4 separate regions of the Homo sapiens genome follow, and regions 2, 3 and 4 are each linked to region 1. Evidence: fine-mapped expression QTL. A gene starts in region 1. Each other region holds a variant in brackets. All regions are shown on one strand. Distances are from middle to middle.

Region 1 (5,453 bases):
AGAATGACAGTGGTTGCAGAGCCCTGGTGTAATTGCCGGCTCTGCAGACTGTAGGATGAGCCTCAGCTGCCCGAGTACGGGCGTGCTCAGGGGCCACGGGGGCTGGGAGAGTGGCCACTCACTCGGGGCAGGAGTTCCCTGAGTAGCAATTAGAGCGGAACCCATGGTGGGCGGCTTCAGATGTCTGGCCAGCACAGCCAGCCTGACCACCACACACCCAATCCAAAATAGAAAACTGCAGTGGCCTCTGCTGTGTGCCAGGCCCCGGGCAGCCGGACAGAGCACCGCCAATGTCAGCCTCCTCCCTCAGCATCGATCCAGGCTTCCTCTGAGGCCCCCTTGTGCTGAGCCACGGTCCCTCCTGCCCTCTCCAGGAAGCAGAGCTTCCCAGAGCTCCAGTCACAGGACTAGAGAGGCGCAGGCAGTCTCAAAAGGGATCCCCTAGCCTCTCTCTTGTCCTTCAGGCGCTGCCCCCAAAAGATCGAGCAGCTCATGGGCACTAGAGCCTTCATTTCCAAATGCACCCCTCAGCTCAAAATAGAGAAAACCAACTTTTCAAAGAACCAGCTGGAGTTCAACAGGAAACCACAGCAGAAAAACCAATGATTCCCGGTCAGCCAAGGGGCAGAGGGCTAACTGGGCATTTCAGCATCACTGCCAGCTCCCTGGGCTGGTATTACCCGCACGCAAGGAAACAGGAAGACTGACTGCCAGCCCATAAGTCCACCACACACATATCACGCCAGTATGCACAAGGACGGACACAAACTCAACAGATGCTCAACACACTGATGTGCAGAAACCCAGACACATACGTGCACAAGAGACACTGGCACACGCACATGTTCACACAGGTGCACGGGCACCCAGATGCAGGTACACACCAACGTTCCACAACACATGTGCACACACTCACAAAGGTACACACACATACACGGACCCACCCCCGGATGCAAGCCAGAGACCTGTTCAGGCAGGCAAAAGAGAGAGGCGCACGCTCCTGCCTGCTGAGCCTTTTGGAGACCCGGGCGCTCCCCATGCATAAATGGCCCCCTGCTCAGACCAGTCAAAACAACCTGCTTTCCAGCCAAGCCCTTCAGTTGGAGCACGAGGCTCACTAAAGCACGGGAAGGGCGCGGAAAGTCCTCAGCGCAGGCCTTGCCCTCCCAAGGGACTCCCAGGTAACCCTTTTCCAAAACCCAGGCGAGAGCAGCGGAGAGAAAGGAGCTAGAGAAGTGCGTACTCACCAGCCCATCGCAGTTGCTGAGCGCCACAGAGGAGGCTTCGGCTAGGCCGGCCACGTCTCCGACGTAGAGACAGCTCCCGAGCAGGGGCTCCACGCGGGTGGTGCCCTTCTCGCCCTGCCACTCCATAGTGGCCCCGGGCGCCACGAGGCGGGCGTTGGGCCGCAGCCGCAGGTGCAGGTCTCGGCCAAAGACCGTGACATTGTAGAAGAGGTGACTGCCAGGCTCCTCCTCGTTGCCTCCGGGGAAGCTCGGGGTCCGGACCGGGGCGGCCCTGCGGGCTCGTACCCCTGCTCTGGACGTAGCTGCCGACACCACGTGGGACACCAAGCGGCCCTGGGCGTCAGTGCGCACGGGCACCGCCAGGATGCGCTCCGCTCCGTGCCCCAGGGGCCCGCCTGCAACGGGAAGGGGCGTTAGATCGGCGGAGACCACGGAGCCCCAGTGCCTCAGAGACCCGCCGGCAAGCCACGCCCCCCCAGACCCCGCCCCACTGCGAAGGGAAGGGGCATTCCGCCAGGCGACCCCAGAAGCCAGCCTGCACCTCCCCGGCTTTCCTGCAACCGGGAAGGGGCGTTAACAGGGCCACCACTCCGGGGCTCCGCCACTCCCCAGCCGTTCCCTCCTCCGGAGACCTTGCCTGCCAAGAGCTCTGCCCCCTGCCCCGTTCAGGGTTGGGGCTCGGTGGGAACCTCCCCGTGCCCGAAGGGACGACCCCGTCAGAGAGTCCCCCGACCCTTGCACCTACCGTCCTTGGCAGGACGTGGAGCTGCTCGGAAGCCATTCCGGGTTGGCCCCCTTACCCGTGTGCCACGACCCCTCGGCGGGCCCCTGCCGCCCGAGTGCCCTCACCGCCAGCCTCCGGAGCGGCGGAGTCTCGGCTTCCCCGAGCACGAGCGGCCTGTCCTGCCTGTCCAGCTCCCGCTCAGCCCGCTGCCGGCCCCGTCTCCCCGAGCGCCCGAGGACTGGGAGGGGTGGAACAGGGTCCCTCCGATCTCCGGGGATTCCCTGCGGGGCGCCCCAACCAATCCTTAGGGCCCAAGGCTACGCGCTCGGCAGCCGGCTCCTCCGGAGCGTCCCCGGACGCGAGCCCCGGCGCCGCCTCGCCCTGGCTCCCCCCTCGGACCCGCTGGGGCTGACTCTGCGCTCTTGGCCGCGGGGCTTTTCCCGGCCCTCCGTCCCCACCCTCCGCGACTCAGGAGCCGCCAGTGCTCCGAGGCTCCCCCGGCCCAAGGCGCTCGGGGGCGGTGCGGGGCGCCCCCTGCGCGACCAACCCGGCCCCGAAGTTGGCCAACTTGGCCCCGGGCGGGGCGCGCGGAGTTTGCCCAAGTCAGGCTGGACGACGCCTGGGGAGGGGGCGGCGGGGCACGCGGGACAGGGCCAGGCCGGCGGGGGTCCCGGGGAGTAGGGGCCGGGCCGCACCTACCTGGGGGGTCGGCGGCGGCGGCGAGCCTGGCGTTCGCGGGCGGCGGCGGCGGCGGCAGGAGCGGCGGCGGCAGCAGCAGCAGCAGCAGCAGCAGCGCGGGGCAGAGCAGGCGGCGAGCGGCTCCCGCCGGCGGATCCATGGCAGCCGGACTGCAGCCGGGGCCCCGCACTCGCAGCCGGCGCGAAAGTTCCCCGCGAGCCGCCCAGCCCACATCTGGGGGCAGCTGGAGCCGCCCGCAGCTGCAGCACCGCAGGGCGCGGGGCGGAGGAGGCGAGGCGCGGAGGGGCGGGCGGGGGAGCGCGGAGGGAAGGCGGGGAGAGGGAAGGAGCGAGCGAGCGAGGGAGGCAGGCGGGAGGGAGGGAGGCGAGCGAGGGGGAGGGCGGGGACGGCGGGCGCCTCAGCCTGCGGTGACCCGGCGCATCTTGGCGCGGCCGCCGCCGCCGCCCGCTTCCCTCTTCGCGCCGCCGTCGCCGCGGTGCCGGGCTCGCAGCGAAGCAGAGACACCCCGAGGCGGCGGCAGAGAAGCGCCGCGGGCCGGGCCGGGGGAGCCCCGCCGCCAGCCACCCCAGGGGCACAACCTCCGAGGAGCGGCGCCGGCCGAACGTCCCCACCTAGAGAGCCCTTGGGGTGCCGGGTCCCACCCATCAGCCCTGGAATTCAAGGGGTGCATCCCCCTGTCTCTGTGCTCTGGGGCAGGACAGGGTGAGGGAATGAAAGGGGAGGGGGGACTGACTACTGGGTCCAAGGTCTGAGCCAGGCCGAATGCCCAAATAGAGGCCGCAAAGGCCAGAAGATGCTGTTAGGAGGGTACACCCAGGGCGCGACCCCAAAGATCAACTTTTGCCCTTACTGAGAGAGGCAAGGCTCCTTCAGTCCCCAGTTCCTCTTCCTCTGAAGTCCCTGTCCCCTGTCCCCCATCTGCCTTCCCATCCCTCCGCTGCAGCCTCAGCACAGCCTCTTCCTGCCAGACCTGGGCTCTCTGCCCATGAGCACAGTCAGGCTCCTGCCCTCACCTGTCCTCAACCCCACGTATGCATTCTGTCCTCCCGCCATTGCACTCCCGGCCCCCAACCTGAAATGGCCTCTCCAAGCTCTGCCTACCTTTTCCACCCAAGCATCCAAGGACACCTGGGCCCATTCTGGGGCCAGTTTGCTGTTAGAGCCCGTTGCCAACCGGAACCCCTCCCCAGTCCCTCCTCTCCAGCAAGGCCCTGATCCTCCCATGCTGTCTGAGCTCAGCGGCCTCTCTCCAGGGCCTGCCTGAGAGCCCCCTCTCAGGCTGTTGATCATCTCTGCCCTGGGACCCCCAATTTCTGCCTCACTTCCCCAGAGGGTGAACACCCACCCCTTTGATTTTCTCATTTGCCCTGCCCCAGGTCTGTGTGGCCAGGGCTTTGGTCTTTGCTTTGGCCAGGGGCAGAGGACCCGGAGATGACTCAGGCCTCTCCCTGCTGGCCAGGAGGTCCCAGTCGTTGGGGGAAACACGACTTACACAGCAGGCTCTAACTGTGATCTCACGTCCTTGGTTCTTTCGATTGTGGGTCCTGGGTGTGAGAGCATCGCAGCTGGACAGCCATCTTCACCTGCAAGCTGTACTCTTTCTGTGTCACCTAAGGGTGCCCGAGGCTGGATCCAGCTCCCAGGCATGGTGAGATGTCACATGGAAATTTAGATTGGTAACTTTTCTTGAGATATTGGAAGATGTGGCCACGCTAGCCCCACAGTCCTGCTTAGCAACCATTAAATGGGCACTTACCTTGCAGTTTGTGGCAGGTCCCGCCTCTCCTCACTCTCTGTAGGCATCTGCTCTCGTGACCTGTGATGACCCAACTGGTTCCAGAGAAAGTTGGAACTGGAATCCTAGTATACCACAGAGATGACTCCAGAGCTGGGCATCCAGGAGGACTTCCTGTAAGAGGTGGCATGAGTTGAATTGTGAAGGCTGGGGGAGCTAGGCAGCCCAGAGTTGGGTCCAGCCAGTTGCTGTCCTGGAACCCATGACGCATTCCTCCTGTGGTTGTCAGCGCTTCCATCCTCTTCGAAACACGAGTGAAACCCAACCAGCAGCCGCCCCTACTTCAAGGGGCATGTTCTGCACCTTCCTGCCGTGTCTATGGTTGGGTATTTCTTTACACAGCGCCTAAAACTTTTTTCAATTTTTTAAAGGATACTTTAAATCACTACTATAAATGGAAAAGCCAGCATCTCACCATGTTTCCATAAATCAAAGATAATTGCTAAAAATAAATACAACAAGAAGAGAAATGTTATCAAATTCCAGATACTTTGACCTGCTAAAGATACCGAAGGCTGAAGCTGATTAGTAAGTGTTACAAAAGCCTTAAGATGGACTAGCACAGAGGTCGTTGTTCTGATGTGATTGGAAGGATGAAAGGAGGCCTGAAAAGGAGTAACTCTGACTTTATGAGTTGATGGCATCTTCTAACAGGTTCACAGAGCTAAATTATTTTGTATACTTTGGGATACTTGCTTTGGGATATTTTTGGGGGAAAGAATTTGTCTCCTGGACACTGAATAACCCCAGGCAGCTGATTCTTCCCACATCACCCGTGCCCCTGCCACCAGGGATGAGTTGGGGATGGAGCAGCACCCTTGCCTGGCCCTTCCTTTAGTGCCCCCACTGTCACCCACCAGGGTGGTGGATGAACAAGGCTCACATGCACCTAACTTCACAGTTAAACCCTCAGGGAGGTGGAGGAGACTTGCAGACACATCCCAGCCCGTGATCATTTGTCCTCCACTCAGAAACAAACAGAAAAACA
Region 2 (5,453 bases), 170 kb before region 1:
GAGGGTGGTGCCTGCTAACCCAGGGGCGTGGGCTTCTCATGCAGGGGAGACCACGTACCTATGGCAGCCTGCGTCCTCACTCCAAGATTTCCCATTTCCTTCAGGTGGACCCGCTGCAGGTGGACCCCCTGCCCCAGCCACAGGAAGCGTGAGCTAGCGCCCATAGGGTGGAACACAGAAACCTCATTACTCCTCCCCAGCCCACTGCAGAGATGACGTGCCAAGGGAAAGCATGAATTCTCTTTGATGTCTTCATTGAAATCAGAAATAAAGGACTGAGCGTGACAGAGCCCTGTGGCATGCCACCGGAGACCTTTCTCCAGAGTGCTGAATTCAGTCAAACGGCATCATTTGGATCCTACCATTTTTAAATGATTTTTTAAAAAATCATTTAAAAAATTTAAATTTCACAAATTTAAAATGCAGTGTTTTGTTTATAAAAGAAACATGCTGGTCCAGGCTCAGCTGCTCACACCTGTAATCCCAGTGCTATGGGAGGCAGAGGCAGGAGAATCATTTGAGCCTGGGAGTTCAAGACCAGCCTGGGCAACAGAGTGAGACCCTGTCTCTACAAAAAAAAAAAGAAAAAAAAATTAGTCGAGTGTGGTGGTGCGTGCCTGTAGTCCAAGCTACTTGGGAGGCCGAGATGAGAGGATCCCTTGAGCCCAAGAGATGGAGGCTGCAGTGAGTTATGATCACACCACTCCACTCTAGTCTGGGCAACAGAGCTAGACCCCATCTCTTAATAATAATAATAATAATAATAATAATAATAATAAAAACCATGCTCATCATATTGAATTTAAAAAATTCAGTAAAGTACAAAGAAGAAAATGAAAATTAATTAGCCTACTGCCCACAGAGAAATCCTGTTCACATTTGATGTGTTCCTTCCAGTCTTTTTGGTAAATATATTTGTACACCAAATTGAGATCATACGGAAAACTGAGATCCTGCTTTTCAAACAACAAACAGCTTTAGACTGTAACCATTTCCCAATGCCATTAAACATGTTTCGAAAATGCAATTTTGTGGCAGCCTAATACTCTACCACATAGGTTTATCATTACTTAACTAGACCACTATTATTGGACAATATAGGTTGTTTGCTGTTGTTCACATGAGAGATAATGCCATGACCCTTGTCTTGTTCCTAAAACTTGGCCCACAGCTGGGATCACTGCTTTGGAACAGAGTTGTAGAAATGAATGTCTGGGGTCACAGAAATGAATGTCTGGGGGCAAACATCAAGAACATTTTAAAGGCCAAATGCGGTGGCTCGCGCCCCATAACCCCAGCACTTTGGGAGGCCGAGGCGGATCACCTGAGGTCAGGAGTTCAAGACCAGCCTGGCCAACCTGGTGAAACCCCATCTCTACTAAAAATACAAAAAATTAGCTGGGTGTGGTGGCAGGTGCCTGTAATCCCAGCTACTTGGGAGGCTGAGGCAGGAGAATCACTTGAACCCAGGTGGCAGAGGTTGCAGTGAGCTGAGGTCGCGCCACTGCACTCCAGCCTGGGCAACAGAGCAAGACTCCATCTCAAAAAAAAAAAAAAAAAGAAAGAAAAAAAGAACATTTTTAAGGGCAGTGATAAATATTGCTACATTTCCTTAGAATATCTGTACTCATACTCAAAGTGTGCCTGCTTCATTCACCCAGCCATAAATCCCTCTTCATCTTAACAGGGTTGATGCTTTATAAATGGTGTATTATTTATTTCTTTAACAGTAGAGTTAGATATTTTTCCATATGGGCTTTCTCTTAGCCACTTGGATTTTTTTCTTTGTTTCCTTCCATTGACAATTTTGTTTCCTTATGATTTAGAGGAGGTTTTATATATTAAGATATATTTATCACATTGCAAATGTTTTTCCTGCTTGTCATTTGCCTTTTCATTGTGTTTTTTGACAGAAGTTTGGTATTATACTTATCCAAATATATCCATATTCCCCTTTACAATTCCTTCAATTGGATTTATGCTTAGAAAGCTCTTGACAACCAATATTTTCTTCTTGATTTGTGTGATTTAAATAGTTGAATGTTGTATTGGCTTATATTTGTCACATGATAATTTAATTTCCTATTTATTAAATTTATGTTATATATTTATTTATAACACAATAAGCATTCTGTGTTTATCACGGTAGGTTATTTGTAAGAGGGGTATTTTCAACTATTTTATTCAACTGAACTGTCTATGAAAGTTTATGCACATATGGCACTATTTTAATTATCTTCACTTTACAAGATGTTTGGAGGAAGTCTCTTACTTGCTTGGGTCCCACAGCTGTCTC[G/A]GCCATTCTTGACCGTTCATGTTCCTTTGGAGGAAGTCTCTTCCTTGCTTGGGTTCCGCAGCTGTCTCAGCCATTCTTGACCATTCATGTTCCTTTGGAGGAAGTCTCTTCCTTGCTTGGGTTCCGCAGCTGTCTCAGCCATTCTTGACCATTCATGTTCCTTTGGAGGAAGTCTCTTCCTTGCTTGGGCTCCGCAGCTGTCTCAGCCATTCTTGACCGTTCATGTTCCTTTGGAGGAAGTCTCTTCCTTGCTTGGGTTCCGCAGCTGTCTCAGCCATTCTTGACCGTTCATGTTCCTTTGGAGGAAGTCTCTTCCTTGCTTGGGTTCCGCAGCTGTCTCAGCCATTCTTGACTGTTCATGTTCCTTTGGAGGAAGTCTCTTCCTTGCTTGGGTTCCGCAGCTGTCTCAGCCATTCTTGACCGTCCATGTTGCTTTGGAGGAAGTCTCTTCCTTGCTTGGGTTCCGCAGCTGTCTCAGCCATGCTTGACCGTTCATGTTCCTTTGGAGGATGTCTCTTCCTTGCTTGGGTTCCGCAGCTGTCTCAGCCATTCTTGACCGTTCGTGTTCCTAGATGGTGCTTAGAATCACTTCATAACATTTCCAACTATGAATCTGGGAAAGGCCAACCTCTCGATTATACCCAGCTTCCCATGAGGACAGCATTTGTGTCTTCATTTGTGATCACTTTCTTCCTATCATTAATCAGGTACAATTTCCTTCCAATGGGTCCATTGTCTTGTCAGGACTATTCCAGGTATTCTACATTTTTGGTTACTACCATAATGGAAATTTTCTCTCCCTGTTTTCCCCACTACCAAGGCTGTTGTTTTTGGTTCACACAGAAGCTACTGATTTTTTAAACAATGGTCTGATATTTGGCCACATCACCAGACTCCTCTCCTAACTCTACAAGTTGTACCGTGGATTCTTTTAGGTTTTCCCGACACATGATTAACAGCAAACAATGAGAATTTGTCTCTGCTCTTTTCCAATACTAGTTTCATGTCACATACAAGTATCTAGGATTTTCAGAACCACAGTAACTAGTTTATGGGTCTTTTTTGTTTGTTTGTTTCCAAGACTATCTCCAGGGCAGTGCTCCCCAGAGCAGGTTCAGCAGGCTGCGGATCTGCTGAGCAAGAAGCTTCCGTGGAGAAAGTTTTCAGAGACCACCTGTACTGCTCGGACTCTCGGAGGTACACCATGCACAGCTCCACAGGAAAGTCTCCGGGAAATTTCACCCCCAGGAATGCCCATTTTCCTTTGTTTGACCAGCATTTTCCAGACTTCTTTGACCTTGGGACCCCTCTATAGTCCTCTGTAACATCTACTCATATCCTAAGAATTCGCTGTGCAGAACACTTTTAGGGAAATGTGCTTCTTTTTCCGCCTTTAAATACAATCTTGGTTGTCCTGTTGCCCTCTGTTACTAGTTTTCTGGGGATCTGGAAAAGGAGGAGTGCCCTGTGAGGGGCTACGGGGCCGTCACGCCCTTGCCCTGCCAGAGGCTTCAACACTGGAGCCCTGAGGCCTCTCTCCCAGGCTCCCCCTAGGCAGCAAGCTCCTCATGCCTGCAGTTGCTTCTGCTACCCCCAGCTCCAGACCCCGCAGGGCTCCAGACCCACATCCACATCTTCTTGGCCTCCTCCGCTGGGATGGCACCAGGTACCTCTAACTGCACATCTCAGCTGACCTCTTCAGCTTCCCTCCTGTGCTCCCCAATCTCAGGGGTTGATACCATCATCTACCCAGCTGAGAGTCTCTCCGCCTTCACCCACCTAGTGCCACATCCTCTCGAAGTGGCCTCCTCTGTCCTCCTGTCTGTATCCCTGGACCCAGGCCTGGTCCCAGTCCAGCTGCCAGCATCCCCCATTTGATGGCAGTGACTGTCTCCTAAGCCACTGCTCCCACCTGCCCCTTCTGCACACAGGAGCCAGTGATCTTCTTAGAAATGCACATGGGATCGTGTCACTGCTTAAAGCTGCCCTCATGGGCAAGCCAAACCCCTTGGCGGGAGACGCAGGTCTGCTCTGCTCCTTGCGATCGGCTCCTTCCGACGTCTTTGGCATTGGGTCTGCTGTTCCTGTCCCTGTGCTCGTCCCTCTGGGTTCAGCTGCCCTCCCTCCCCTCCCAGCCTATGAACTCAGAGCATCTCTATGCTGGTGACTTCACTGGACCATCTTCAGGTGTGGGTGGAACGGTCACTTCCTCCCGTTGCTTTTCCTGACCTTGTAAGGAAAGACTGCCTGACCCGCGTCTCCTCCATCCAGCCCTGAGCCCTGGTACAATTGTTTCCTTGTCTAGATCTGCCTTCTGGAAGCGGTCCCCTGAGGACAGAGACTATGCCAGTGAATATTCCCAGCACAGCACTTCCCACACAGAAGCCCTTCAAACAGTATTTGTTAGAGGATGAGTTTTGTCATTTGGAAACTGATGTGATGAACTGTATGAATAGATTTCCTGATATTAAACAATCTCCACATTCCTAGGATAAGCCCTAGATGATCACGGTAGAAGTTTCTCTTTATACATTATTCAATTAAACTCTTAATGCCTTGGGATTTTTACTTCTATTTTTAGAAGTGAGACAGGTCTGTACTTTGTCCTGACGGGCTACCTTTGGCATCTTTGGGTATAAGGGTCCCATTGACTACGAAAGACACATTGGGTAGATTTCAGAATACATGAGTTTACAGGGTATTGTATTAGTCTTGCCTGATAAATGCTTGCAAATGAGTATGAATGCACTGGCAAAACTTTGGAAAAGGTGAAGAACTTGAGTTCCCTCCATGGTTATGGGACTTATGGCATATTCTCCATTTTTTGGAGTCAGCTTTGAAATATTCACATCCCAGGAAATCCTCAATTTCCCCAGGATCTCCGTGTCCCTGGCATAGAGATCCTCAAATTCTCACCTTCAGGGTTTGACTCTCTTCTGCAAATGTTCTGACTGTGATCACATACTCCTTCTACCTACCTGAGGCAGTTAAGGAAAAAAAAAGAAAAAGAAAAAGAAAAGGCTTAGGGTCGGGATAATTTAGCATAGAGCCTGCTAAGGAGTAATTAATAAAGGAGGCTTTATTCCATCAAGTACTCAAGACTGGGAAAGAGCAGACACTTTTCAGGCCAAATAAGATCCAAAGCTTTGCCAGCACT
Region 3 (5,453 bases), 72 kb before region 1:
AGCCCAGCCTCACCCCTGACCTGGCAGCTGGCCTCACCCAGCGTCTTCTAAGGCCAATGGTTTCTGGGCTTATTCTGAGATTGAAATTCCTTTCCTGTGTTCTGAATTTCAAGTTCTCATTAAAGATATGTGGATTGGGGGTGGGGGTGGAGGGAGGATTCAGCAGAAGATGCCAAACACCAGCAGAAGCCCAGAAAATAAGGCAAGGCCGGCCAGGCTGTGGGGGAAGGGCTGCCATGTTCAGGAAGACAAGCACCATATGGAATCTGGGATCAGAGACATGGCCAAGGGCACGTGGCCAGCTCACCTCGCCTGAGCAGAGGCCCCCAGAACCACCCTGAATCTTCCAGGAGAGGCCAGCCAGAAGCACCAAGCCCACAGCACAAGTGACCAGCCCCTGAGCTCTCGGGGACACAGGGGTTGCTAATGCCACTGGGCTTGCCCGACAGCAGCTAGCTAGCAAGGAGCAAAGCTGGGGCCCTGCCCCCGGGTCTGGAGCACTCGCTCAGCCCCTTCCACGCTGGCCCTCCTAGATTACTCCTCCTTCCTTCCCTGCAAAATAGTCCAAGGGTGGGGATAAGTCGAGGCTGAGACCACAGCTGGAAAAGGCTGGGCAGGCAGTACCCAGTGGCCCGGCTGTCTGCAGCATAGCAGACGCTGATTTGTCACCAAGGAACAAGGGGCCACCGGTTGCACTGATTGGCTCCAGAGTACATTGGGCTTCCTGATGGAACAATTCCTTTGCAAAGGTATCTGATGCCGTTTCATGAAATTAGAAGTATGCCTGCCAGGCTGTACCCAATTTTTCTGTCAAGCTAGGAAGTCAGACAGACCTACAGTAAATGAGGCGGGGCTGCTATGGAGTGACGGGAGTACCTTAGTAAATCACAGCACGGGGGCTGGCCCAGCCCAGGCCCCTGGAGCACTCGCTGTGAACGTGCAGGTGTGCCCGATCCTGGGCCCCAGACTCCAGACTCTCCTCACCCAGGGGTCCTGACCAGAGGCTGAGGGCTGAGCTCGCAGCTTCCCACTCTCCCAGCAAGAGCCAAGCACAGGCCAGGAGTCCCTGACCACACGGGGGACCCTGAGAACTATGGGCCTGCAGAACCACATCAGACACCAACCCTGGCTTCACCACAATCCAGGACCAGAGACTGGGGGATGCTGGGAGGTGTGGGCTGGCACAGTGAGGCCAGATCTGAGGCGACAGTCATGGACTGTCACCATGGCCGCCTGGCAGCTCCTTTCACGTTTCTGGGCCCAGGGCACACGTGGGTTCTGAGTTGAAAAAGACAGACGCCCATGAGTCTGTGCAGAGACTGCTGAGGCTGCTGGGAGCACCTCCAGAGTCCTTGTAGGGCACATGCCTCCAGGGATCCAGAAAGAGCATGCAGGGCCTTTCTCCCTGAGCAGCCAGGTGAGGGTTGGGACCTACCACAGGCACCCTCCCAGGGACCATGGCAGCACAGAGCAGGAGAGGCGCTGTCTGGGGCTCTGGAGGCCTCTTCACAGGCACAGACTCAGAGACGCAGGCACTGGACTCAGGCCTGGCCGGGGGCCCCCGCCCCGCTCCACGACACTTGCTTGCCTTTAGGCAACAGAAGATGGGCCCTTGGACAGCCTTCATAGTCCACCATGGAGGCCCCAGACATGAAGGCAGAGGTGTCTGGGCTGCTTGTCACCCACATGCACCCAGAACAGAGGCCCCAGCCCCAGCAGCCCTGCTACGCCCTGCCGTCAGCCAGGCAGCTGGCCCATTTCTGAGCCACTGAGACCGGGGCTCAGCCTCAGCAGCCAAGCTGGTCTGTGGAGAGCTGCCTGAGTCTCTGGGATGCTCCCCTGGGGACCAGGGCCTCAGAGGGCTCTCCACACAGCCTGCCCACCTGCAGTAGCCTCACCTGTGTCCAGGGCCTGTGGCCCCCCGAGAGGAGGGGACGTGGGTGGCCGGCGATACACCACATGCACACGGCCTTGCTCAGCCTCCTGCGCCGCCAGCCCCTTCTCCAAGGGTTCGATGAAGAACTCCTCCTCCTCCATCCGGATCAGACCAGCCTGCGGGACAAAGACAACAGGATCAGATTTCCAGCACACAAAAGACCAAGGAAGGGGAACAGCGAGGAGACCCCCTCAGGGAGTACCTCCCACCTGAAGACCCTGCCCAGCACCCCAGCTGGTGCTCAGCTTGAACCCTGGGCTGGCCGGAGGGTATGAACATGTGGTCCCAGAGGCCGCCCCCCGCCGCCCACCCTGTCTAGGAAAGGGGCCTCTGTCTGGGTCATCTCCACCCCTATACACCAACCCTGTCTGCTTTCAGAAAAGTTACTGTGTTTATAAAGTCAAAACCGTCCAGAGAAGCAGGGAGACATTCAAGGGCAGCTGTGGGCCTGTGCGTGTCCCCAGGAGGGCATCCACCAAAGTGCATCAATATGGGCCAAGTGCTGCCCCCACTCCCAGGAGCCCAGAGTCCAAGACAAAGGTCAAAACAGCCAGCCGGGGATTGAATCTGCCCACACACATGTTCCATCTGGGCCAAACAATATTTTTAAAGCTCTGAAGCTAACACTCAGAATGATGAGATTTCATGTCTTGAACATGGAATCCCAGCTTTCCTTGGAAACGCAGGCCCTGACCACAGCGGGTCTTGGATGGAACACATGCCCCTGCAACTGGCTCCAGTCCCTACTGCCCCCCAACTGTCTCTCCTGCTCTCTGTGTCAGCCACCAGCCCAGACTCTACAGGCAGCTGAACTGCTGCCCCTGACCCCCTAGGCCAGCCAGCACCCTCCCTGACTACAAACTCCTCGCTGGGTCCTCATTTCCGTTGGGACTCAGGCTGCTCTATATGCTGGCATTCAGGCTCTTGGCCTGCCCCACCCTCCCAGACCGCGGCTTGCACCACCCCATGCTTCTCACTGGGCTGGGTGCACCCTGCCGAGCCACCCAGCCCCTGAACCCCATGCTGCCAACTCAGGAATCCCCATTCTCCCACCCCACCACCCCATCCCCAGCTCGGCCATCTGGTAAACCTGTGTTCCCCCTTCGAGGCCTGATTCAGACCCCCTCAC[C/G]TCTCCTGCCCTCCCCTGCCATCCAGCCTGCCCTCCCCTGCCATACCCTGCCCTCCCCTGCCATACCCTGCCATCCAGCCTGCTGGCACCATCAGGTCCACCCATCCCATGACAACTCCAGCTCCTACACTTTTATCTTCTGGTCCATTATCCATAAACCAAGGTCTCACACTGGAAGTGCACACTGTGTCCAGCCTTCAGAGTGTTTCCTTCAGATCACAAGCTTATGACCCATGCAGGGGATTTTAAAAGCTTGAATTTGTTGCCAAACTTAAGAAACAGGAGAGTTCACATAAACGACCAGATTTCCAGACTCTCTTGAAAATCAGAAAAGCTGGCATTTCCAGCACCCATCGACACTCCAGCTTAGCTGGCGCTGGCCGGGGTCCCCTGTCCAGTTAGGAGTGTGCCCTCTGGTGGGCAGCCCCCGGCACCTGCCATCTGGATGTGCGGAAACCACACCCCCCCCAAAGTAACCTCATGATGGCCTCTGCCATATCATCATCTTGGTTGTGGGGGGGCACGGTGGCGCACGGGCTGCCCCTCCTTCTCCCTGACCCCAGGTGCTCGGTGAGCCCCATCCTGTTGCTGGCTGGGAGCCTCTGCAGACCGAGATGCAGTCAGTGCCCCCCAGGGCCTGCTGGGCGGCTGCCCCTAGCCTCAAGTGTAGCGAGGGAGGCTGGAGATGCCTCCCGGCGCACTCAGCCTGGGCCCTCGGGAAGCTGATGTGCCAGGCAGGGGCTGGTGGAGGTGCAGGGCCTGGAGGAACACAGAGCCCAGCATCAGGCCTGGCTCCAGAATGAAGGATGCCTCCGGCAGGAGGTGACATCTACCCAAACCCACCCAATCCCTTTGTGCTGGCCAGGCAAAGAGTCAGAGAGAGGACCAGTGCTCCATATGGGGGAAACCGCACATGCCATGGCCGGGGAGGTGGACGGAGCACAGCTGGTGGGAAGAGCTGACCAGGTGGGTGGACAGGAGCATCAAGGGCACGGTGCCCGGTGGCCCATCACTCAGGGGGCTGGTGAGGGAGATTGTAGGCAGCCCAGGGCTTCTGGGGGGAGCCTTGATCTGATTCCAGTTCAGAAGCATGGTGGCTGCGGCAGGGGGAATGGGCTGCGGAACAAAAATGGGTCTGGGGTCCTGGGGAGAAGGTGTTACAGGCACCTGGGAGAGGGGTAATGGTCCAGACGGGAGCATGAGAGACAAGGACGAGTGGCAGGTATGAAGGAGGTGAGGAGCGAAATGGACAGGACGTGGTAGGGTAGAGCCGGCTGAGATGGGAGGGAGGAGGAAGCACCTGGTGGGCTTCCAGGTCTGTGGCTGAAGAACCGGCCCCCAAAGTTACCCAGGCCCCCATCCCTGGCAGCTGTGAGGGTAGTGGACATGGTGGAAAGAGACTCTGCGGGTGTGATCAGGTCAGCTCTGGGGCTGGCTGGGCCCTGAATGCAGTCCTTGCCCACTTCCTTATGCCGGGGAGTGGAGGGGGATTAGGCAGATGCGCAGAGGACGAGGCCATGGGCAGACAGGGAGGATGCCAGATGCCAGCTTTGGAGATTGGAGCGATGTGGCCTCAAGCCAAGGAATGCTGGCAGCCCCCAGGAGCTGGCAGAGGCCAGAAAGTGTCCTCCCCCAGAGTCTCCAGAGGGAGCGCAGCCCTGCCGATGCCTGGATTTGGGTCAGGTTATACCGACTTCGGACGTCCGGCCTCAGAACTGTGAGAGAACGAATTCCTGCTGTTTTAAGTGGTTCCTTACAGCAGCCGCAGAAAAGTAATTCAGGGTCCTGGTGGGTGGCCGGCAAAGTGGGTGCCATTCTCCGAGGGGCATGAGAAGAAGGGCAAGGGGCGCAGGACCCTCTGGGCTCAGGCATCCTGGGCTTCTGGGGAAGAGGCCTAGGAGGCAGTGGTAACCAGAGTTACCAGGGCAAGACCGAGGTCGGAGAAGGAGGTCAGCAGGGCTGTGGGAGGAGAGCGGAAGAGGGGGTGGGAACCCTGCAGGCCCCACGCTTCTGACTCATCCCTGGGTCTCAGGGCTCAACCAGGCCTGGCGAAGACTCAGCAGATGCCTGTGGAATGAGCGAACCGATGACCCCAAAGCTGCAGGCCACGTCCCCCAAGGGAGGCACCGAGCAGGCAGGCGGGAAGAACACAGCCAGGCCTGTCCACTGGCACAGGGGCAGTGTGTTTACCAGTGCAGGAGTTGGGAGGGTCCAGCACTGATGGTCCCGGTGCGTGGTGTGGAGAAGGCTGGTGCCTCAAATCCATCTTATGACTGAAACTCATTGGATGAAGTGCAGGAATTAACCCTGGGGGGCGGCAGCGGGCAAGCTGTCCTGGAGCGTGAAGTTCTGACTTCCTGGCACCCTTTCTATCTGGCCAGGTGACCT
Region 4 (5,453 bases), 33 kb before region 1:
AAAAAATAGCCACGCATGGTGGCACGCACCGGTAACCCCAGCTACTCAGGAGGCTAAGGCAGGAGAATCGCTTGAACCTGGGAGGCGGAGTTGCAGTGAGCCGAGATCATGCCATTGTACTCCAGCCTGGGCAACACAGCAAGACTCAGTCTCCAAAAAAAAAAAAAAAAAAAAAAAAAAAGGCTCTGGCCCTGCCACTTGACCGGGTGGGTCACCTCTCCGTGCCTCAGTTTCTTCTATTTAAAATGCATAGGGGAGGAGCTCTGAGGGCAAAACACCCTGGGTTTGCCTCAGGGCAGGGCAGGACCCTGGACCCAGCAGGCCCCCACTGCATGTCCCTCCTGTCCTCCCTGCCCCACCCCTGCCCTCTGGCTTCTGGGGTTCAAGTCAGGGAGGCCTTGGGAGTAGCCTGCGGCCCTGGGGACAGACAAGGGTGCCCCTGAATGTCCTGTGGATCTGCCCAGGTTGATGCCTTGACTGCTCCTTCCTGTCACCCAGGACCCTCCAGGAGAGACCACCCCGGACTACGCCTGCCCAGGGCTCCCTGCACGTCCCATGTCCCCACAGCGCTCAGGCGCTGAGATGCTCTGCTGTCTGCTGTGGGGGCCTGTGGACGGCCCTCCTCCCCCACCAGGCTGCAGCTCCCAGCGGGCAGGGATCTAGGCATGCCTTGCTCATACCACAAGGCAGAAACACAGTGAAGAAAGACAGAGAACTGGTCTTGTTGTCTTTGGGGGCTCAGCCCCCCAGCTCCAAGCTGGAGGATCAGGAGGCATCTACAAGCCTTTCCGAAGCCCCCCCATAGGCTGCCTTGCAGGGTACAGTATGGCCTAGAGAGCCCCAGAGGGCTCCCCTGGTCATTAAATATCTCAGGATTTCCAGGAACAAGGAGAGGTTCAAGTCCACAGAAGAATCTGATTGGCGTCTCTGGGCCACCCACCGGTGCTAGAATCCCGGCTGGGGTGAGGGATGGTGGTGCAGAGCCTGGCTATGCAAAATGTGGCCTGGAGCAGCCTGGGGGCCCCCGGGAGCTTGTTAGAGATGCTGAATCCAGGCCCCATCCAGACCAGCTGAACTAAAACCTGCATTTTGGCAAGTTCCCAGGTGGTCTGATGACATTGAAGTCTGGGACACACTGCTCTAGACCTTCCCAGGGTCCCTCAAAGGTGGGTGTAGAGGCCCTACTGCCCTGCCCTGGGGACGCAGAGGCATCAGGGCCTTAGTCCTCCTGGGGACAGTGAAAGGGCCACCACCCCAGACCATGGCCAAACTGCAGGGGTCAGGGAGGCATGGCCCAGGACAGCAGCTCAGCAGGGTGCCCAACCCCACCTGCCCCTGCCTGCCCCAACCCACTTGCCGGCTGGGTCCTCTGGACCTCCGCCCCTTTCCACCCCAGGTTGGAGCCAAAGACCACCCTCTCCACTCCCCAGCCCCCCACCCCCCAACCCACCGAGTGCAGGGCCCGTTGACTCCTATCTCAACAACAACAGGAAACCATTTTTCCAGACAGCATTATATAAGGGGAGGATGCGTATGTTCAGCAGATGTTCACTCTGAGGCCGAGCCTCCCCCGCCCTCTGAACAGGAAGGCCACGTCCCCATCCCTCTCCCCCAGGGCCTGGCGCTCCTGGCCCAGGTGGAGCTGGCCTCTGGCTGGCCACTTCTCTGGAAGGGCCTCGTCCAGCTCTGTCCTGTGCAGGGTCATGCCCCTCCACTCTGCTCTCTCTAGCCCATGGGCAGGCGCCGCCTGGCTCAGAGGCACAGCAATGGGCCAGGGTCAGACAGTGGTGAGCAGCATGCCAAGAATCACAGGGACATCCACCTGCCAGCAAAGCCTCAATGACAACAAAGGACCTGAACAGTGGACACTGACAGGGACTCTCCTGCTTGACCAAACTTTAGTCCAGCTCCTGAACCTTCTCCTTCGCCCACTTCCTTGTAAGATCCAGTTTATCAAGAACTCTGCTAAGTCATGAATGCCCCATCTCTCCATATCTGATCACCCTTGATATCTGGTCAGGCTCGTCCTCCCCATCACCCCTCTGGTGATGTCTGGTCACCCCAGCCTGTCTTCAGCTAGAATCATGTTAGGTGAGTTTAGCTAGAATCCCCGACCCCTGATGTTGCTCTTAGTAATTCCCCATCCCCTGGCCCCTACCCTGCTCCTTGGCTATCACCCCCCACTCGCCCGTGCTGTATTCGGAGTTGAGCCCAGTCTCTCTCCCCGACTGCAAGAGCCCACTCTAGCGGTTCCTGTGTCTATCTCCATGGTCCTGAATAAAGTCCGCCTTACCGCGCTTTAA[C/T]AAGTATCATTGAATCATTTTTCATTTAACAACACTCTGCCTTGCTGAAGGGAAGGTAGAAATGACAGCAGTGGGGAGGAGGGAGAAGGGGCATGGGAACCCTGTGCCGCTAAGGGCATACTCTAGACCCTCTGCCCCAGGCTAATGTTAGAAGCTGCAGAGGTGCAAATATAACAGTCAGACGACCATGGCAGTGGTCAGCTGAAAAATGGCCCCCGAAGACACGTCCGGGTCCCAATCCCTGGAACCCATAAATGTTACCTTCCATGGCAAAAAAGAACTTTGTAGATGCGGTGAGTCCAAGGATCCTGAGATGGAGTGACTGCTGGATTTTCCGGGTGGGCCCAGGGATAGACAGAATGTTTATATTCCCCCCAAATTCCGATGTTGAAAGCTACTCCCCCAAGGTGATATATTAGGAAGTGGGGCCTTTGGGAGGTGATTATGTCACCAGATTCCATCCACACGAATGGGATTTGTGCCCCGATCAGAGGGACCCCAGAGAGCTCCCTCACCCTTTCAGCATGTGAGGATGCAACAAGATGCCTTCTTGAACCAGGGAGCAGACCCTCACCACAACCATATGCACAGCTTCCAGAACCGTGAGAAATAAGCTTCCGATGCTTTTAAGCCGCTCCGTTTATGGTATTTGGCTATAGCAGCCTGCATGGACTAAGACAGGCCCTAAATGCAATCACACTTCTCTTTATCAGAGGAAGGCAGAGCAAGATGAGCCAGGCAGAGGAGAAGGCCACGTACAGGCAGAGCAGAGGGAGATGGAGGATGTCGGCCCTGAAGCCCAGAGCGAAGAGGCCACAAGCCAAGCACTGCTGGCTGCCACGAGGACCTGGAAGAGCCCAGGACGCATCCTCCCCTAGAGGCTCCGGAGGGAGCGCGGCCCTGCCGCCACCTGCGTTTTGCCCTGTTGAAACTGATTTCAGCCTCCAGAACCGTGAGAGGATACAATTCTAATGTTTCAAACCAGCAAGCTTGTAGTAATTTGCAGGCAGCCTCAGAAACCAATACAATGGGGAACTCTGATATGGACTAAAAGTGGTGAGAGAATTATGGTAGAAGAATGGGGCTGGGAGGGGCAGCAGTGTTGTCAGTGAGCTAAACCCTCCTCTTCCAGGGCAGGAAGTCAATGGACAACATCGAAACCCGATACATCAAGAAACAGCAATAGAATAGCATTTCAGGACTTCATGGCAACCCCAGAACCAGCCAGCAGCCTAAAGCCTTACCGGGGCTCCCTCCTCAGGAGTGGCCTGTGAAGAGGGGACGCACACGCATTCACACTCATGCACACACACACACCGAGACAGAGGAGGGCCTGGCCAGAGCAGGGGTGTCAGCAGAGGGGACGCACACGCATTCACACTCATGCACACACTCACACCGAGACAGAGGAGGGCCTGGCCAGAGCAGGGGTGTCAGCAGAGGGGACGCACACGCATTCACACTCATGCACACACACACACCGAGACAGAGGAGGGCCTGGCCAGAGCAGGGGTGTCAGCAGAGGGGACGCACACGCATTCACACTCATGCACACACTCACACCGAGACAGAGGAGGGCCTGGCCAGAGCAGGGGTGTCAGCAGAGGGGACGCACACGCATTCACACTCATGCACACACACACATCGAGACAGAGGAGGGCCTGGCCAGAGCAGGGGTGTCAGCAGAGGGGACGCACAAGCATTCACACTCATGCACACACACACTCACACCGAGACAGAGGAGGGCCTGGCCGGAGCAGGGGTGTCAGCAGAGAGGACGCACACGCATTCACACTCGTGCACACACACACTCACACCGAGACAGAGGAGGGCCTGGCCAGAGCAGGGGTGTCAGCAGAGGGGACGCACAAGCATTCACACTCATGCACACACACACTCACACCGAGACAGAGGAGGGCCTGGCCGGAGCAGGGGTGTCAGCAGAGGGGACGCACACGCATTCACACTCGTGCACACACACACTCACATCGAGACAGAGGAGGGCCTGGCCGGAGCAGGGGTGTCAGCAGAGGGGACGCACACGCATTCACACTCGTGCACACACACACTCACACCGAGACAGAGGAGGGCCTGGCCGGAGCAGGGGTGTCAGCTCCAGGACCAGGAGTTCCCAGGCAGAACCTGATGGTGGGGCGGGGGGGTTCCTCACACACCCCACACCCCTGCCTATGCCCAGACCTCCAGCTTCAGGCTCTGCATCCACACGGAGGCTTCGGATTGGGCGCAGCCTGGGAGCACACAGACCGGCCAGGGCCAGGGCCAGGACTGGCATTTCCCGGGCTCCTGGTCCCATCCTGCCCCTCCCACCGGGTCGGCCCTGTCCTTGTCTTGCTCAGCTCGGGGGAAGCACCTCTCGCCAGCCATCTGGGGCTTGGCTGGGCCTCAGCCTCCTGGCTGCCACGTCTCACTGGGAGCTGGGCGGCCGCCAGCTCTGAGCTAAGTGAGCGCAGAGGAGAGTGCAGGGAGCGGCAAGGCCAGGCTCCTCCCCACCCCGTGGCGTGGCGTGGCGTGGCCGGAATACTCAGTTTTCCCTGCTTTTTGAGACAAGAGTAGTAAATGCACCGTGCTGTACTCAGAGCCCAGGAAGCAGCCCTCCCACCCACAGCGCTCCTGCCTCTGCAGCCCCCCGGGCCGTGTCTCTCTCTCACGGGCCCACATCCTCACTGGACTGTCTCCCTTTTACAGATGAGGTGAGACAGCATGCAGAGGCCCATGTGCTTGTCCCACAGGGTGACGGGCCAGAATTACAAGCCCCTGATTCTGGGGGCTTCCACGCTCTTCCACCAAGCCCTTGTAGCCTTCCTGCACCCAGGTGGGGCTCCTGTCCCCCGCCAGTGCCCCCAACCTCTACTCCAGCAGACCTCCACCTACAGACAGGAGTCTTGGGCACACACTTTTTTGTGCCAGGCCCAACCAAGAGCTGCAAGGGACATAGGAATGTCCCTTAGCATGGCCCGGGAGCCTCAAGCCCAGGGCCTACCTAGAAGTAACTCTCTTTCCTGACATTAAGCGACTCCCCTCCCAGAGCCTAATCACAGCCAGCTACGCCCCCTTCTCCCAGTTATTCAAGCCTGGAAGGAACCTGGAAGTGGTACTGGATTCCTACACCCACCCCCCCCACAATCCCCA

Which allele goes with the higher level. Alleles are on the strand shown, and positions count from the first base shown. SD is a standard deviation of normalised expression in the study named. Not every link is listed here.
For the expression in spleen of the gene that starts at base 2,942 in region 1, A is the high allele of the variant in region 2 and G is the other (moderate effect, 0.41 SD a copy in GTEx).
For the expression in subcutaneous fat of the gene that starts at base 2,942 in region 1, allele T in region 4 goes with a higher level than allele C (moderate effect, 0.48 SD a copy in FUSION).

What was found. PIP is the estimated chance that this variant, and not a neighbour inherited with it, causes the effect.
Region 2: its variant is the best candidate, but not a certain one, in a credible set for the expression of ADAMTS2 in spleen (GTEx, PIP 0.52).
Region 3: its variant is the best candidate, but not a certain one, in a credible set for the expression of ADAMTS2 in lung (TOPMed, PIP 0.62).
Region 4: its variant is the best candidate, but not a certain one, in a credible set for the expression of ADAMTS2 in subcutaneous fat (FUSION, PIP 0.61).

The regions. Positions count from the first base shown.
Region 1 is chr5:179,342,520-179,347,972 of GRCh38, forward strand. ADAMTS2 (ADAM metallopeptidase with thrombospondin type 1 motif 2) reads right to left here and starts at 2,942. Exons shown (of 22, transcript NM_014244.5): 1 at 2,671-2,942; 2 at 1,248-1,642. The coding sequence starts at 2,809. It overlaps LOC105377759 (a long non-coding RNA gene), which reads right to left. Exons shown (of 3, transcript XR_941311.3): 2 at 4,427-4,579; 3 at 3,842-4,260.
Region 2 is chr5:179,172,470-179,177,922 of GRCh38, forward strand. All of the region lies in intron 5 of ADAMTS2 (ADAM metallopeptidase with thrombospondin type 1 motif 2), which reads right to left. Among named protein-coding and RNA genes, the nearest start is that of ZNF354C, 110 kb to the left of the region's middle. The variant G/A (reference allele first, on the strand shown) is at 2,297.
Region 3 is chr5:179,271,013-179,276,465 of GRCh38, forward strand. ADAMTS2 (ADAM metallopeptidase with thrombospondin type 1 motif 2) reads right to left here. Exons shown (of 22, transcript NM_014244.5): 3 at 1,899-2,052. Among named protein-coding and RNA genes, the nearest start is that of ADAMTS2, 72 kb to the right of the region's middle. The variant C/G (reference allele first, on the strand shown) is at 3,066.
Region 4 is chr5:179,309,604-179,315,056 of GRCh38, forward strand. The region is part of intron 2 of ADAMTS2 (ADAM metallopeptidase with thrombospondin type 1 motif 2); the gene reads right to left. Among named protein-coding and RNA genes, the nearest start is that of ADAMTS2, 33 kb to the right of the region's middle. The variant C/T (reference allele first, on the strand shown) is at 2,304.